4 linked regions of the Homo sapiens genome follow. The protein of the gene in region 4 purifies or fractionates together with the protein of the main gene of each other region. This does not show direct contact. Each region holds a gene or a part of one and is shown on either strand. Other genes may lie near its edges.

What was found. The genes of interacting proteins can lie anywhere in the genome.
Region 1: the proteins of PDK1 (region 4) and VWA8 purify together in Homo sapiens (affinity purification with mass spectrometry; one large-scale study listed by BioGRID and IntAct). This does not show direct contact.
Region 2: the proteins of PDK1 (region 4) and LRRC37A2 purify together in Homo sapiens (affinity purification with mass spectrometry; one large-scale study listed by BioGRID and IntAct). This does not show direct contact.
Region 3: the proteins of PDK1 (region 4) and PDHX purify together in Homo sapiens (affinity purification with mass spectrometry, with the first as the bait; 2 studies listed by BioGRID). This does not show direct contact.

What each region holds. Positions count from the first base shown.
Region 1 is NC_000013.11:41,951,110-41,954,609, reverse strand, and holds part of VWA8 (von Willebrand factor A domain-containing protein 8 isoform a precursor), read left to right. Parts: intron 1-3,500. UniProt on the Homo sapiens protein: Exhibits ATPase activity in vitro.
Region 2 is NC_000017.11:46,511,294-46,515,267, reverse strand, and holds the start of LRRC37A2 (leucine-rich repeat-containing protein 37A2 isoform 1 precursor), read right to left. Parts: upstream 2,801-3,974; 5' UTR 2,556-2,800; coding exon 1-2,555.
Region 3 is NC_000011.10:34,958,118-34,961,617, forward strand, and holds part of PDHX (pyruvate dehydrogenase protein X component, mitochondrial isoform 1 precursor), read left to right. Parts: intron 1-2,302; coding exon 2,303-2,401; intron 2,402-3,500.
Region 4 is NC_000002.12:172,604,590-172,608,089, forward strand, and holds part of PDK1 ([Pyruvate dehydrogenase (acetyl-transferring)] kinase isozyme 1, mitochondrial isoform 2 precursor), read left to right. Parts: 3' UTR 1-3,500. UniProt on the Homo sapiens protein: Kinase that plays a key role in regulation of glucose and fatty acid metabolism and homeostasis via phosphorylation of the pyruvate dehydrogenase subunits PDHA1 and PDHA2.

The sequences.
Region 1 (3,500 bases), on a different chromosome or scaffold from region 4:
ATTACAGAAGCATAAATCAGATCCTGTGCTAGCAGAAAGACTAATGGAGTGATCAATTTGTGCTAGAGGAAAAGTTAGGGAAGGTTCAATGGGGAGATGAAGATATTTCAGTAGTAGTTGTGTAGAGGGCAAGTGGTGTGAGAGAGATGTGGAAGGTCTTCTAGGCTGAGGAGATAAAGTGTTAGTCACTGAGATAGGAATACAAGAGGTGGAGCTGGTTAGAGGTGGTTAGGCGCACACAATGGACAATATAGAATTCTGTTTCTGTGTGTTTGTTGAGTTGTCTCTGGAATATCTAGGTAAAGTCTCCAGTAGGCTACTGGCAGGTATGAAACTCAGGAGAGAGATCTGAGCCAAAATAGACATTTAAAGAATTAGTTGTATATGGTGTTTGAAGAGTACCCTTAACTGAAAAAAAAAAAAAGGTTGTATAGAGGTCAGAGTTGGGACATTGGTATGGATTAAATGACTGAGGAAAGTGTAGTGTAGTAACAGAAGATGGCCAAGAACATCAATGTTTGAGGCAGAGATGGCAGATGCCTGGTCCATATGAATGTCATAACTTTTCCCTTTTGTCTATTGCAGATGTGGCTCATTGATCACCACCCTGTTTCCCAATGAGTCCAATTTCCGTTGTGATTTATTTTTTGGATTTTTTAAGAAGCCTGTTGCTTGATTTCCAAATGTTTGGGGATTTTCCAGTTACCTTTTTGTTACTGATTTCCAGTTTAATTCCACTGTGGTAAGAAAACATAATCTTTATGACTTCCATCCTTTAATTTTCTTTTTTAATTTTTTTTGACACAGAGTTTCACTCTTGTTGCCCAGGCTGGAGTGCAATGGCGCTATCTCGGCTCACTGCAACCTCCGCCTCCCTGGTTCAAGCAATTCTCCTGCTTCAGTCTCCCAAGTAGCTAGGATTACAGGCATGTGCCAGCCACCACGCTCAGCTAATTTTGTATTTTTAGTAGAGATGGGGTTTCACTATGTTGGTCTGGCTGGTCTCAAACTCCTGGCCTCAGGTGATCCACCCACCTCGGCCTCCCAAAGTGCTGGGATTATAGGCACCAGCCATTGTGCCTGGTCTCATCTTTAAATTCCTTGAGACTTGCTTTATGGTCCAGCCTATAATTTATTTTGGTGAATGTTCCATGTGCATTTAAAAAGGATATGCATTCTGATCATGAGGAACCAATTACAATACTAAAAAGTGCTTTATAAAATACAATATTCAGTTGATAGGTTGAGAAAATAAAAACATACTTGCAGTAATACTTAAATAAATAATAAATAGAATATGCATTCTGTTGTTGGGTGTAGTGTTCCATAAATGTCATTTAGGCCAAGTGATTAATAATGTTTTCCAATCTTCTCTTTCTTTACGTCTATACTTGGTCTTTGCCAGAAGGCTGAGAAAAAATTATCCTTATCCTGTATCCTTCTTTATTTTTTCCTACTTCTTCCATTATTTACCAAGAGAGCTACTTAAAGCTATTAATATCTAGATGTGATTGTGCATTTTTCTATTTCCACTTTTAGTTCTGTCCGTTTTTGCTTCATGTTTATTTCCCAGCTCCCTCCCTGCCAGGTCACCATTATGGGTTTGCTGTGTTACCCAGAAGGAGGCTTCCTAACACAGTGACCCTCTCTGCTTGCTCTCTCCCCTTGCCCCTTCAGGCCTAGGGGCGGTAATGACTTTCTGTTATTGCTAGTCCTAGGATACTGCACCATCTTTTTTGGTTTCCGTAAACTCTGCTATACCTTTGTAAATAGTTCCCTTTTTGTACTCTCCTCAGTTACTCAGTTTGAATGTACTGTCTTTCAGAAATGTGAGGTATGAATTTTACTTTTTTTAAAAAAAAAATGGACAGCCAATTGTCAAGTTACCATGAATTTGTATAGTCTGCCCTTTTTCTAGATTATTTATTAGAAGGATGATGTCGGTCAGCTCTAACACTCAGGGAATGTTTGTAATGAGAACCTGTGCCTGAAAACGTTTTTCTTATGTTCAGATTAATTACTCAGTATCATTTTGTCAGGAGGCCAAATAATTACAGTCTTTTCAGGAAGTGAAATAACATTTGTAAAGACATCCTATTTGAAAATACTGTAACTATAATTCTTGAAACTACTCTGTAATAAAAGCCAGTAGATAATATCACTTATATTTGTAAGCAAGCTTATCTTTTAAAAGAAAAGCTACTGTAGAAAGTAGCTAATTTATAGGTTCTTTCCTGCATTAAGGAAAATAGGGCGAGATGACCAGTCAACCAATACCTGGCAGTAACTAAGATTGTACTATATGAGGCACTGCTGACCACCTGTTTTTTGAGGGTGTTAGAACTTAAACGACCAAATGATCTCAAACATGCATTAGAGATCATCTGGAGGGCTCATTGTAACACCGATTGCTGGACCTTAGGGTTTCTAATTCAGTAGGTCTGAGGTGGGGCCTGAAGATTTATATGACTTACAAGTTCCCAGGTGACGTTGATGCTTTGAGAATCTCTGTGATAGATTGCGTGAAGACAAAGAGTTAATTGGACAGGGGAGGAAAAGGGAGCGGTGCACGGGTTATGGAGGAGCTTTGCAGGCTTTTGAATTTTGGTCCTCATCATCTTTTGCCTTGCTTTTTTCTGGCTGCCAGTTTTGGACCTAGCAGGGATTTAGCTTTGTGTGTAGTCCTTATCTTCCTCTCTCAATTTACCACATACCTGTAATAAATTTCTTTATCTGTTAAAAACTCTGTTATGGATTTACAAATTTTCTCATTTGTAAAATTTCTGTCTCATAGGATTATTTTGAGAATGCAAAAAATACTTAGAAGGTAGTAAGCATTCAACAAATGTTGGCTATTGTTATTAGTACCATGATTTAAGGCCTTAGTGTTCAAGGTATCTTGCTAGCTTTAAACTGGCAGTGCTGAAAGATGAGTTTTGCACGACTACTTTTTTGGAGTGTCTCTGAGCCCTTTCCAAATGAAATTCTAGATGCAAATGGTATCACCATGCCTATTTTGCTGTTAGAGAGAGCACAGCGGGGAGAGATTATTCAGTTTAGTCCTCGGCTTTAGAAGATCACTCGGAAATTAAGGTTACATTAAAAAATAGAACTGTATAGAACTTACTGAAAACTTTTGCCTGCTTTTGCTTATTTCATGTAGGAATTCTTGGCTTTTATTTTTTATTTATTTGAGACGGAGTGTCGCACCGTTGCCCAGGCTGGAGTGCAGTGGCGTAATCTTGGCTTGCTGCAACCTCCGCCTCCTGGCTTTAAGCGATTCTCCTGCCTCAGCCTCCCAAGTAGCTGGGATTACAGGTACGTACCACCACGCCCAGCTAATTTTTGTATTTTTAGTAGAGACGGGGTTTTACCATGTTGGTCAGGCTGGTCTCTAACTCCTGACCTCAAGTGATCCGCCTGCCTTGGCCTCCCAAAGTGCTAGGATTACAGGCGTGAGCCACTGCACCTGGCCAGTTCTTGGCATTTATGCCACTGGG
Region 2 (3,974 bases), on a different chromosome or scaffold from region 4:
AGCCTCTGCTCTGGGTTGAGATCAATACATGACAACATCTCATCTCCGCAGGTACAGAGCTCACATATGTTGGTGCTTGTGGAGGCCTTGTGTTCCTCTGGTGCAGTTAAAGCCTTATTTTGGGTGTAACTTTCAGACTGCACCAGTGAATCCTGAGCAGGTTCTAGTTCAGTAGGTGGACCTGTGACTTCAGTCAGGCTTCGATGCAGAGTCTGAACCCGGTCTGGACGAGGAGCTGTAGTCTTCTCCAGGGCTGTAGAATGTCTAGTCTCTGTAGTGGGTTCTGGAATGATGGCAAGTCCCAGGTCTGGAGGCTGAGTTGAGGTCTCCTCCGTGGTTGGAGATGGTTTAACCTCTGTAGTAGGTTTTGTAGTTATGGTAAGCTCCAGGTCCAGAGGTTGAACGGTGGCTTGAGTCAGGTGTGAATGCTGAGCCTGACCCTTGTCTGAAGGTGGAAGTGTCACCTCAGGGTGTCCTGGAGGAGGAGCTGTAGTCATCAGGGCTGTAGAAGGTTCAACCTCTGTCATGGATTTTGGAGTGATGGTAAACCCCAGGTCCAAAGGTTGAACTGTGGCTCGAGTCAGGTGTGAATGCTGAGTCTGAACCTGGTCTGGATGTGGAAGTGTCACCTCAGGATGCTTTGGAGAAACTATAGTCCTCTTCGGGGGTGTAGAATGTCCAACCTCCGTAGTAGGTTCTGGAGTGATGGTAAGTCCCAGGTCCAAAAGTTGAACTGTAACGCTGGGTGACACTGGATGCTGAGCTTGATCCTGACCTGGTGTTGGATTTGTTACCCCTTGATATACTCGAAGTTGGGGTACAACTTTCTTAGGAGGCTGAGTTGGGGTCTCCTTCATGGTTGGAGAAAGTTCAACCTCTGTCTTGGATTCTGGAGTGATGGTAAACCCCAGATCCAAAGGTTGAACTGTGGCTTGAGTCAGGTGTGAATGCTCTGGAGGTTGAGCTACAACTACATTAGGGAACTCTGGAGTCTGAGCTGGGGCCTCCTGATGGGTTAGGGAAGACTCACCCTCCTCAGCGGTCTGTGGATGCTCAGCTGCAGCCTCCTGCTGGGTTGGAGAGGGGTTCTCATTATTAATAGGTTCCGGAGATTGAAATGAAGTCTCCTGTTGAACTGCTAAAGGTCCAGCTTCTTCTGATGACTCTGGAAGCAGAGGTGGGCCCCCGTGCTGGATGGCGGGAGGTTCTACATCATTACCTGACCCTGAGAGCCGAGTTGTAGCCTCCTGGTGGACTAGAGAAGTTCCCACCTCTGCACTAGGCTCTGCTGCTATGGTGAGCTGCACGTCTGGAGGCTTCACAGAGACACTGGGTGAAGCTAAATGATGAGTTTGATGGTGACCTGGAGGTGAAACTGTGACTTCATGATGTTCTGGAGGCTGACCTGGGGTCTCCTGCTGGGTCGGAGAAGATTCGACCTCCCTAGGAGACTCAGAAGGCTGAACTGGCTGCTGCTGCTCACTGATGGAAAGTTCATGCTCCATAGGAGGAACTGGAGGCTCAATTGGGGCCTCCTGTTGGGTTGCAGAAGGTTCCACCTCCTCTGGAAACTGAATTGGGGTCTCCTGCTGGGCTTGGGAAGATTCTGTCTCATTGGTAGGCTCTGAAGTTATGGTAACCTCCACATCTGCAGGTTTAACTGTAATGTTGGGCAAGTGATAATAAGCTTGATCCTCACCTGGAGGTTGAACTGACACCTCATGATTCGGTAGAGTTAGACTCTCCATAGAGGACTCTGGAGGCAGAGCTGGGGCCTCCTGCTGCATTGAAGAAGGTTCTTCCTCAAGGAGCTGTGGAAGCTGTGCTGGGGCTTCTTGCTGGAGTGAAGAGGACTGGATGTCTTCAAGGGTCTCTGGATTTTGAGTTTCGGGCTCTAGATGGAATTGAGAAGGTCCAACTTGCTCAGAGGGCCCTGGAGGCTCATCTGACTTCACCCGGAGTTCTGGAGGCAGGCTACCGGGATACGGTGTATCTGTACTGGAATATTCATTCTGCAAAGTCTGTTTCTGACTCTGAGGTGTGGATAATTGGCGTGTAATTCCAATAATCTCAGCAAGGCTCCAACGCTGAGCTGGATCTTTCTTCAGCTTCTTGGGCGAAACAGGGAGTCTTTCCTGTGGACTCAGCTTGTCCTTTAAATCCTGCTGTGAAGCCAAGAACTGCTCTGGCTCCAGGGGCTGCTCTCCAGCTGAATCCCAGGTGTCCAGGAATGGAACCAAATTTTCAGTCGATTCCTGGGGTGGGGCTGGCATCTCTGAGGAAGCAGAGGGCCCCAGGTGATCAAAGTCCCACGGGTCTGCTGGGAGAGTAGGCGCATGGGGAGATTCCCGTGGGAAATGGGAGGAGTGGGAAGACCAGGAGTCAGGCGGCCCCAGGGGATTAGAGGTGAGCTGGAGCGGGTCCTTGACCCACTCCAGAGGCTGAGCCTCCTTAACTAGTAGCCACAATAGTTGCCACATAAGGAGGGGCCATGGGCCCCAGAAACGCAGCCGGGACATGACACACACTAGTGCCGGGCACTGAGCAGAAGACATTCTGGCAGCTCCGAGACGCTCGTGCCCCTTCTAAGCGTGAGCCCCGCCCTGTCTTTATGACACCTTTATTTATGTCACAGATCTGCTCCATGTCACCAGGGCACTCTTATGTCACAATCCCGCCCAAGCACGCCTTCCCATCCTGCCCTGCCGGAACACCCCTCTCCTCCCCTTAGTGAGGAAGGATTTGGGCCTCAGACCCTGGTGGTCCCAGGACTCCAGCGCCTGCTGTGGTGGGGTAGGGTGGGGTAGGGTGGGGTGGGGGCGCGGCAGAGCTTCCCAAGGAAGTCACCGGACCTCGCCTCAGGATATTCAGAAGTGCTAGTTCAGTTCTGGCAGCCTTCCTCCTTTAAGGTGAAATCCGAGAACACTCTTCCTTCCAGGGAGAGCAACTGACCTGCAAAATGGGCGCCAGGATGCACATTACAGTCACTTATTCCAAAGTGTTGCCATTTTCGCTAAACTGTCGCATGTTTGATAATTAATTCACCACCCTATTAGGTAGGGGCTGCCAGGGAATAAGCGAGGACTCCACATTTTCTGTAGGAGGGGTGTTGGGAGTTGGCAATTCGGTCTGGGAGAGAAGGTTTTAATCCGAGTGAAGAGCCCTTTGCACTAGCCTGGGAGGAGGCTGAACTGTCATCCTGCCTTGACTCAACACAGCCATTCCCCTAGAAGTTACAGCACTTCTAGGGTCACCTGTGTTCAGAGATCTACCCTGTGTGCACACATGGAGAAGAGGCTTAGGTTGTTAAAGTCAGCATGTTAAATCATTTCCTGAAATGCGACTGTAACTAGAACCCAGCTGACTTCCCCCACAGCCGTTCTTACCTATTTTATTACTGTCTGGCATAATTACCAGCATGTAAACTCCAAGAAGGTGCTTCATCTTATTTTAGTGCCTGGCATAGACATAGGGTGCATAGTGATGGCTTTAAAATTGAAGGGGGGCCGGGTGTGGTGGCTCACACCCATAATCCCAGAACTTTGGGAGGCCGAGGTGGGGGGATCACTGAGGTCAGAAGTTCGAGACCAGCCTAACCAACATGGTGAAACTCCGTCTCTACTAAAAATACAAAATTAGCCAGGTGTGATGGTGCATACCTGCAATCCCAGCTACTCAGGAGGCCAAAGCAGGAGAATCGCTTGAACCTGGGAGGCAGAGGTTGCAGTGAGCCGAGATCACAACATTGCACTTCAGCCTGGGCAACAAGAGAGAAACTCCATCTCAAAAAAATAAAATAAAATAAAATGGAAGAGATTCCAAGATTCACCTCATTTAGGGATGGAGCTATTGTTATAATCAGATTTCTGAAATGAGTGCTGACTTCCTCTCACATTTCACAGGAAGCTAGACTTCTTAAAGCTTGAAGTCTCCTTGGTGGGTTTTATTTAAATTGAATTAAAATAATTATTTTA
Region 3 (3,500 bases), on a different chromosome or scaffold from region 4:
TGCTTTAATAGAAGAACTCTGTAAATTCTAACATTTCATTTATTTAGTATTCTATATAATTATACAACATTACTTTTTCTTTACGAGAAAAAGATCTTCATAAAGTAGACCTCTTCATTCTTAAACATTTTTTCCTTTAGTTTATCATTGTCAGAAAAGAATCCACAGTGCTTTTTTTAGGGGGGGGCGTGCGGAGGTGGGTGACGGAGTTTTGATCTCATTGTCCAGGCTGGAGTGCAATGGTGCAATCTCAGCTTACCGCAACCTCGGTCTTCTGGGTTCAAGCGATTCTCCTGCCTCAGCCTCCTGAGTAGCTGGAATTACAGGCATGTGCCACCATGCCTGGCTAATTTTTTTGTATTTTTGGTAGAGATGGAGTTTCTCCATGTTGGCCAGGCTGGTCTCGAACTCCTGACTTCATGATCCGCCTGCCTCGGCCTCCCAAAGTGCTGGGATTACAGGCGTGAGCCACTGCGCCTGGCCTGCTTTTTGAAGTACTGATTTTAAATTCCTAGTGCAGTGTTTCTGACTCTGTTGCCTTGACTCCCATTTACTGTCTCCTCTTTCATTTACCCTAAAAATTGGAAGACAGTCTCACTGATGCTTTCTAACTAATGGTCTTCTGCCCTTGCAAAGATAATAATAGTATGTACCCTAATTAAGATCAGTCATCATCAGAGACTCGCATGAATCAGGCCCCACTGTGTAGGTTAAAAACCTACTGACCTGTGAACTCTGCATACTGTTGGGCACACAGTGAATGAAAAAAAAATTTTTTTTTGGTTGGTTGGTTACTAATCCTATATAAAAATCTAAAATTTCAGATTCTCTTGAAAAATCTAAAGATTTAGTAACATTGGGCCCATATCAGAGTTATTTAATACTTCCCTGAAATGCAGCAAGTTCCACAGTTGTTTCTGTCTCTTAGCTTTAATTTCTAGATCCAGCCTGTTTTAATCTGTACTAATCAGGCTTATTTTCTTTATCTGACCATGTAGTAATTTGTTTACTACTTTGCATACAAGAGATATACCATTAGTCATGTAATCTGAGGTATCCTATATATATAATAAATATATATAATTGTGTATACATACAATTCAACCTCAGCAAAACAACCCAATTAAAAAACAGGTGAAGAACTTTAATAGCATTTCTCCCAAGAAGATACATAGATGGCCAGCAGGCACATGAAAAATATGTTCACCGTCACTAACCATTAGGGAAATGAAAATCAAAACCACAATGAGACACCCCTTCATACCCTTCAGGATGGCTAGTATCAAAACAAACAAACAAACAAAAACCAAACCAGACCCAGATTATAACAAGTGTTGGCAAGGACATGGATAATTTGGAACCCTTGTTGTTGCCTAGTGGAAGTGTAAAATGCTGCAGCTACTGTGGAAAACAGTATGGCAGTTTCTTAGAAAATTAAAATTACCATATCATCTAGTAGGTCCACTTCCAGATATATATGCAAAATAACTGAAAGCAAAGACTGGAAAGAGATATTTGTACATCTATGTTCATAGCAACATTATTCACAGTAGCAAAATGGTAGAAACAACTCATAAGTCCAAAATGCTATGAAATGTGATTCAGCTTTTTAGGAAGGAAATTCTGATAAATGCTGCATGGATAAACCTTGAGAATATTATGCTCAGTAAAATAAGCCAGTCACAAAACAAATAACTGTATGATTCTACTTATGTGAGTTACCTAGAGTAGTCAAATTGACAGAGACAAAGAGAATGGTTACCAGGGGTTGGGAGGAAGGAGGAATGGAGAGTTACTGTTTAATAGATACAGAGTTTCAATTTGGAAAGATGAACATTTCTGGAGATAGATGGTGGTGATGGTTGCACAATAGTGTGATTGTACTAAATGCCACTCAGTTGTACACCTAAAAATGCTTAAAATGATAAATTTTAGGTATCATTTGCCACAATACAAAATATATGAAGAAATGATAGAACAAAATATACGAAGGAAACAATTGGTAGTTGTGATGAGCACCCATGTGAAAGTAATTAGTTGAAATAGCAGCTCTTTCCCCTAATTAATATTTATTCTTATTAAAATCATATTTAGAAATAGTAACTAAATTTTTACGAAAGTGTTTAAAGAATAAAATAAACCAAATTGGTACAGATTATTTGACTGTGACCATCTGTGGGAGTCATTTTAGCTTTATTATAAGATTTTTTTTTAATTATTTGCGAAACTGTTGACATTTAGATCTATTTGAATCAAATGTAAGTGTTAATTGGTTCTATTAACCTTCATATTTTTTTCTTAGGTTCCGTTTAAGTCCAGCTGCCCGCAATATTCTGGAAAAACACTCACTGGATGCTAGCCAGGGCACAGCCACTGGCCCTCGGGGGATATTCACTAAAGAGTATGTGTTTGCTTTTTGTAATAACCAGTTCCATTATTTATTATGATCATGTTTTTTTGAAAGAAAATAAAAAGAGCTTATTCAGTCTTAAGATTTAAAAGGAGGTACACTGTTCTTCTTTTGTACTTTTAATTGCTTTTATCATTGTAAATTGTATTCTATGCAAGAGTTGTTTTCTGAATAATTATAGCATTACTGAAGAACAGCTCTAATTTGGTAACTAAGCAAGATCCTTAGAAGTGGTAATAAATGCAGAAAATTAGAGCGTAGAACAGTGAAACTTTATACAGTATTAAATATGTGAAATCATGCAATAACATTTACATTTCTAAAACAAGGAAATATATTTTTAAAAAATTATTTTCATTATCCCTTTGAATTTTATTCACTTGTGCTGTTATAAAGCAATTTCCATATACAGTTTGGTCTCTTTTTAGATTTTCTTTTCTATTTCACTGATCCATCTGTCCATGAGTTAGTACCATACTTTTTTAGTACCACACTTTTAATTAGAAATGTTTTATTGTATGCTTTAAAATCTGATAACAATAGCTTTGCTCTTTTTTTAAATCAGTTTTCTTAGTTCATTCTTATTTTATTATTCTTCCAAATGAATTTTAAGCAGTTCGTCTAGCTCCATGGGTAGGAGTGAGGGGTATTTTTATGGGATTGTATCACATTTTAAATTAACTTTGTGAGAACTGACATCTTTATCATGATGGGTCTTTCTGTTCTGCAACACTGGTTTAAATGTTTGTGTCTTTCCATTAGTTTAAATGTTTGTGTCTTTCAAAACAGATGGCCCCTGTTCTGTTGAAACTTAGTCTAGTAGGGTAGACAAAGATTAATCAAATAGGCTTATGAACTAATGTAAGATTTCAGTAGTGTTATGTGCTACATTTTTATTGGCAGTAATAGTAAATGTTTCAAATTGAGTTTATGTTTTAAAGCAATGTACTCATTCCATATTTATCTAATATTGATAGGAAATAAAAAATAATATTGGCCAGAATTTTTGTAAGTCGAGAGAGAGCAATGGTTGTTAAATTATAAGTGGCAGTGTTGGGCCAGGCAATGTTTTCTTTTTTCCACTGGGTTA
Region 4 (3,500 bases):
GAGGACTAGAGATAGCTAAGTAACATAGTTCCACCTTATTCACTTGGTCTTTGATGTGGTGTCCATAATTGAGTAAATGGCAGTATGTCCAATGGCAACACCATGAACTTGACTTTGCCCTCTTGTCTAGCCCTCTCCATTTAGACTTGGAAGGGTCAGCAGTAAAATTTCACTGGCCCAGTCCAGGGCTGCTTGAGTGTTACTGTTTTGTGCCACAATATGATGTGGCCAGACTACTTTTCTAGTTTCGAGATTATTTTGGAGCTTTATATTGGGTATGTTCTTATCCAACTATCATTAGGGGCATTGATCTCTGATGCCCTTTTCTTTCTTATCTTCCAAATGGCAGGCAGTAAATGGCTTATTAAGCAAGTATAAGATTCAAGATCTCAGCCCCAAAGATACATTTGTAGATGCCAGGCTTAACATTCCTGAGGCTCTCAGAGAAAACTTTTCCCTCTATAGACTCCCCATTTTAAGAAGGAGGCACAGGGCTTGGTTGGCCCATTTAGTTAGTGACACACCTATATTACTCTCCTTGGCATCTTACCCCAGCCCATCCATTGGGTTGTGTCAGTCTTTTATTTCTAAGTGAGGATCCAGTCAACAGGAGGCACAAGAGATAGAACCAAATACCATAATGCCTCCTTCTATTCCACTATGAACAGTCAAGGACACTGGAGGCCTCTGGGTGGGACACATAGGCGTTCAAGAGCCTCTGAGCTTAAAGATATGTGAGTGGAGCTAACTAGACTGTCCAGGTTTGGTCTACACTGTAATTTTTTTTTTTTTTTTTTTTTTTTGGAAGCAGAGTCTTGCTCTTTTGCCCAGGCCAGAGTGTAGTGGTGTGATCTCAGCTCAGTGCAGCGTCTGCTTCCTGGGTTCAAGTGATTCTCCTGCCTCAGCCTCCAAGTAGCTGGGACTACAGGTGCCTGCCACCATGCCCAGCTAATTTTTGTATTTTTAGTAGAGACGGGGTTTCACCGTGTTGGCCAGGCTGGTCTCGAACTCCTGAGCTCAAGTGATCCTCCTGCCTTGGCCTCCCAAAGTGTTGGGATAGCAGGCATGAACCACCGTGCTCAGCCTCTCTGTAAATCTTGAGTCGGCACTGAGCTCATGAAAGCTGTGCTGAGTGGGTTTCTTTAGATTTTCATTTTCATGTTTGCCCCATTTATGCTAATATTAATTATTGGAAAATAATTCACCTACTTTGCTTCTCTCTGACCAACATAGGGGCAGGATCTGTGGAAAGACATTTACCACCTGTTTGAAAAGGTCAGCGTGCTGATATTCACTAACTACTACCCCCACAACTCCCCCTCCCCCAAACCTGATAGATGCTATAATTTCTGCAGTCCAATCACTATTCTTCCCAAACTCCATGAGCCAGATTTTATACATACTTTGCGTGACCATAAAACTCTGTACTATTATAGACATAAAACCATTTAATTTCATAGATACCTTCAGTGGTGGCATCACTGGGTCCTCTCTTGGATAGCATAGTCCTATGACCAAATGGGTCAGTCGTTGATCAGGCTTCATGAGAATATGATCGCTGGGAGAAATATACAGCTAATTTAACAACAAATGACTGTCCTAATTCTGGAGACCTGGGAAGTATTGATGAGAGTATAGTGATCATAAGCAGACATTGGGTGCTTTAGCAAAGCCAATTTGCCTGCATCCTCTGGAAGGTAAAGAAGATCTCCTCTCTCTTAGAACTTAATCAAACTCTTGGCATCCACAGAAGGCTAGGAGGATGTAATGAATACTTACCATTTTTGTGGAAGCCCACAACCTTTTGAATGGCCTTTCTATACTTTAGTGAACCTCCATGTTATGAACCTTACTTCCTCAAGTCTCTTTTGCTGCTAGGAGGCAGACAGTAACTTCGGTAATTAGAAACATCTGCACTCAGCAACATGAAGCACAAGTTCTGTGCAGTTGTCCATATGCTGTCATGAGTTTTGCCATATGTATCATCTGGCTTTCAGAGGACCTTTCATGGTTGTCAGGTTAAGTTCCTGATACAGAAGTGGCATCAGTGCTGGTGTTAATGGCTGCAGTAAAGTCAAATTCCTAGATTTTAGTGCTCTGTGGTAGCAGAGAGAATGGTGGTAGTTTATTTTTTCTTTCCTTTTTTTTTTAAAAAAAAAAAAAAACCTTTTTCATGTTGAAGTTCACATGACCTACAACTAACCATTTTAAAGTGTAATTCAGTGTCATTCAGTACATCCACAATGTGCAATCACCACCTCTGTCTAGTTCCAAAACATTTTTATCACCCTAAAAGGAAACCTTGCACCCATTAAACAGTGGTAGTTTCTCTATCATGCCACTTTTGTAGCATGCTTTGGGGTCTTATTCCTGGGATCTTTCTCTACAGTGGTATGATTATATAAGGGTGGAAATATAAAAGAGTAAGCCTTTAGAAACAGTTTGTGTCTAAATTAGCTCTCAGGCATATTGTCTTCAAAGGAATGTTTTAAACCAGCCAAAGACTAACATCAACATGCTTACATTTTGAGTCCAAAATTAAAATCCAAAATAGCCAAGCATGGTGGCTCACGCCTATAATCCCAACTACTCCAGAGGCTGAGGTGTGATAGAATTTCTTGAACCTAGGCGTTCCAGGCTGCAGTGAGCTATGATTGTGCTGCTGCACTCCAGCCTGGGTGACAGAGCGAGGTTGCTTCTAAAACAAAAATTTGAAATAGTAAGTGCTTTGATTTTTTTTAATATAGAATCAAACAATTGTGAAAATATAATTGGCTAAGTTTCATATACAGTTCTTTCTAAAACTCCTTCTGTTCTCTAAGATGTAGTTTGAACCAGCCAAGGATGATGGCTTCAACATGTCTCCAGTTGTTTTGCCACTCCAGGGCCTGACTCAAACCAAAATAAGACTTGCTGTTACCCTGAGACAAGCCAACTGTCATTGCTTTAGCAACCACTACGGCTACAGGTTGTTGCATCATGCCAAGCTCTGTGTTCTTTCTAACTAGTAGAATGGAGTGGGATGGTATCGTGATGGTGAACCCAAAACAATGGTACTAGGAAGGAGGTTGGCCAAACTCAGAGTGGAGGCTGACCCTGTATCTGGTTGTAGCAGAGTCGGTCCTAGGGGAACAGGCTCAGCAGCAGCAAGGATGCAAGGACCAGAAGGCAGCAGGGGAAGGAAAAGGAGCAGGGGATAGGGGAACTTTAGGAGCAGAGTAGTGTTGATAACTGGCATCTGGAACCTACAGTTTCCAGTTCAGAGCAGTACACCATACTCAGTGTATACTTACACTCCAAGACATTTCCTGGGCAGTGATCTAGAAATGATATTTTTAAAAGGAGCTGTGTTTCAGTGTTAGACTGTAGTTATCCAAGCAGTATCAGATAGTGTGCAGTTTTTGTAGTAAAAGGTAAAAATCTGAATAATAAAGTTTATTAATAACAGTTTTAGTTAATACTTGACTGACATTGAGACCCTTGATGCAAAAAGGTAAGTA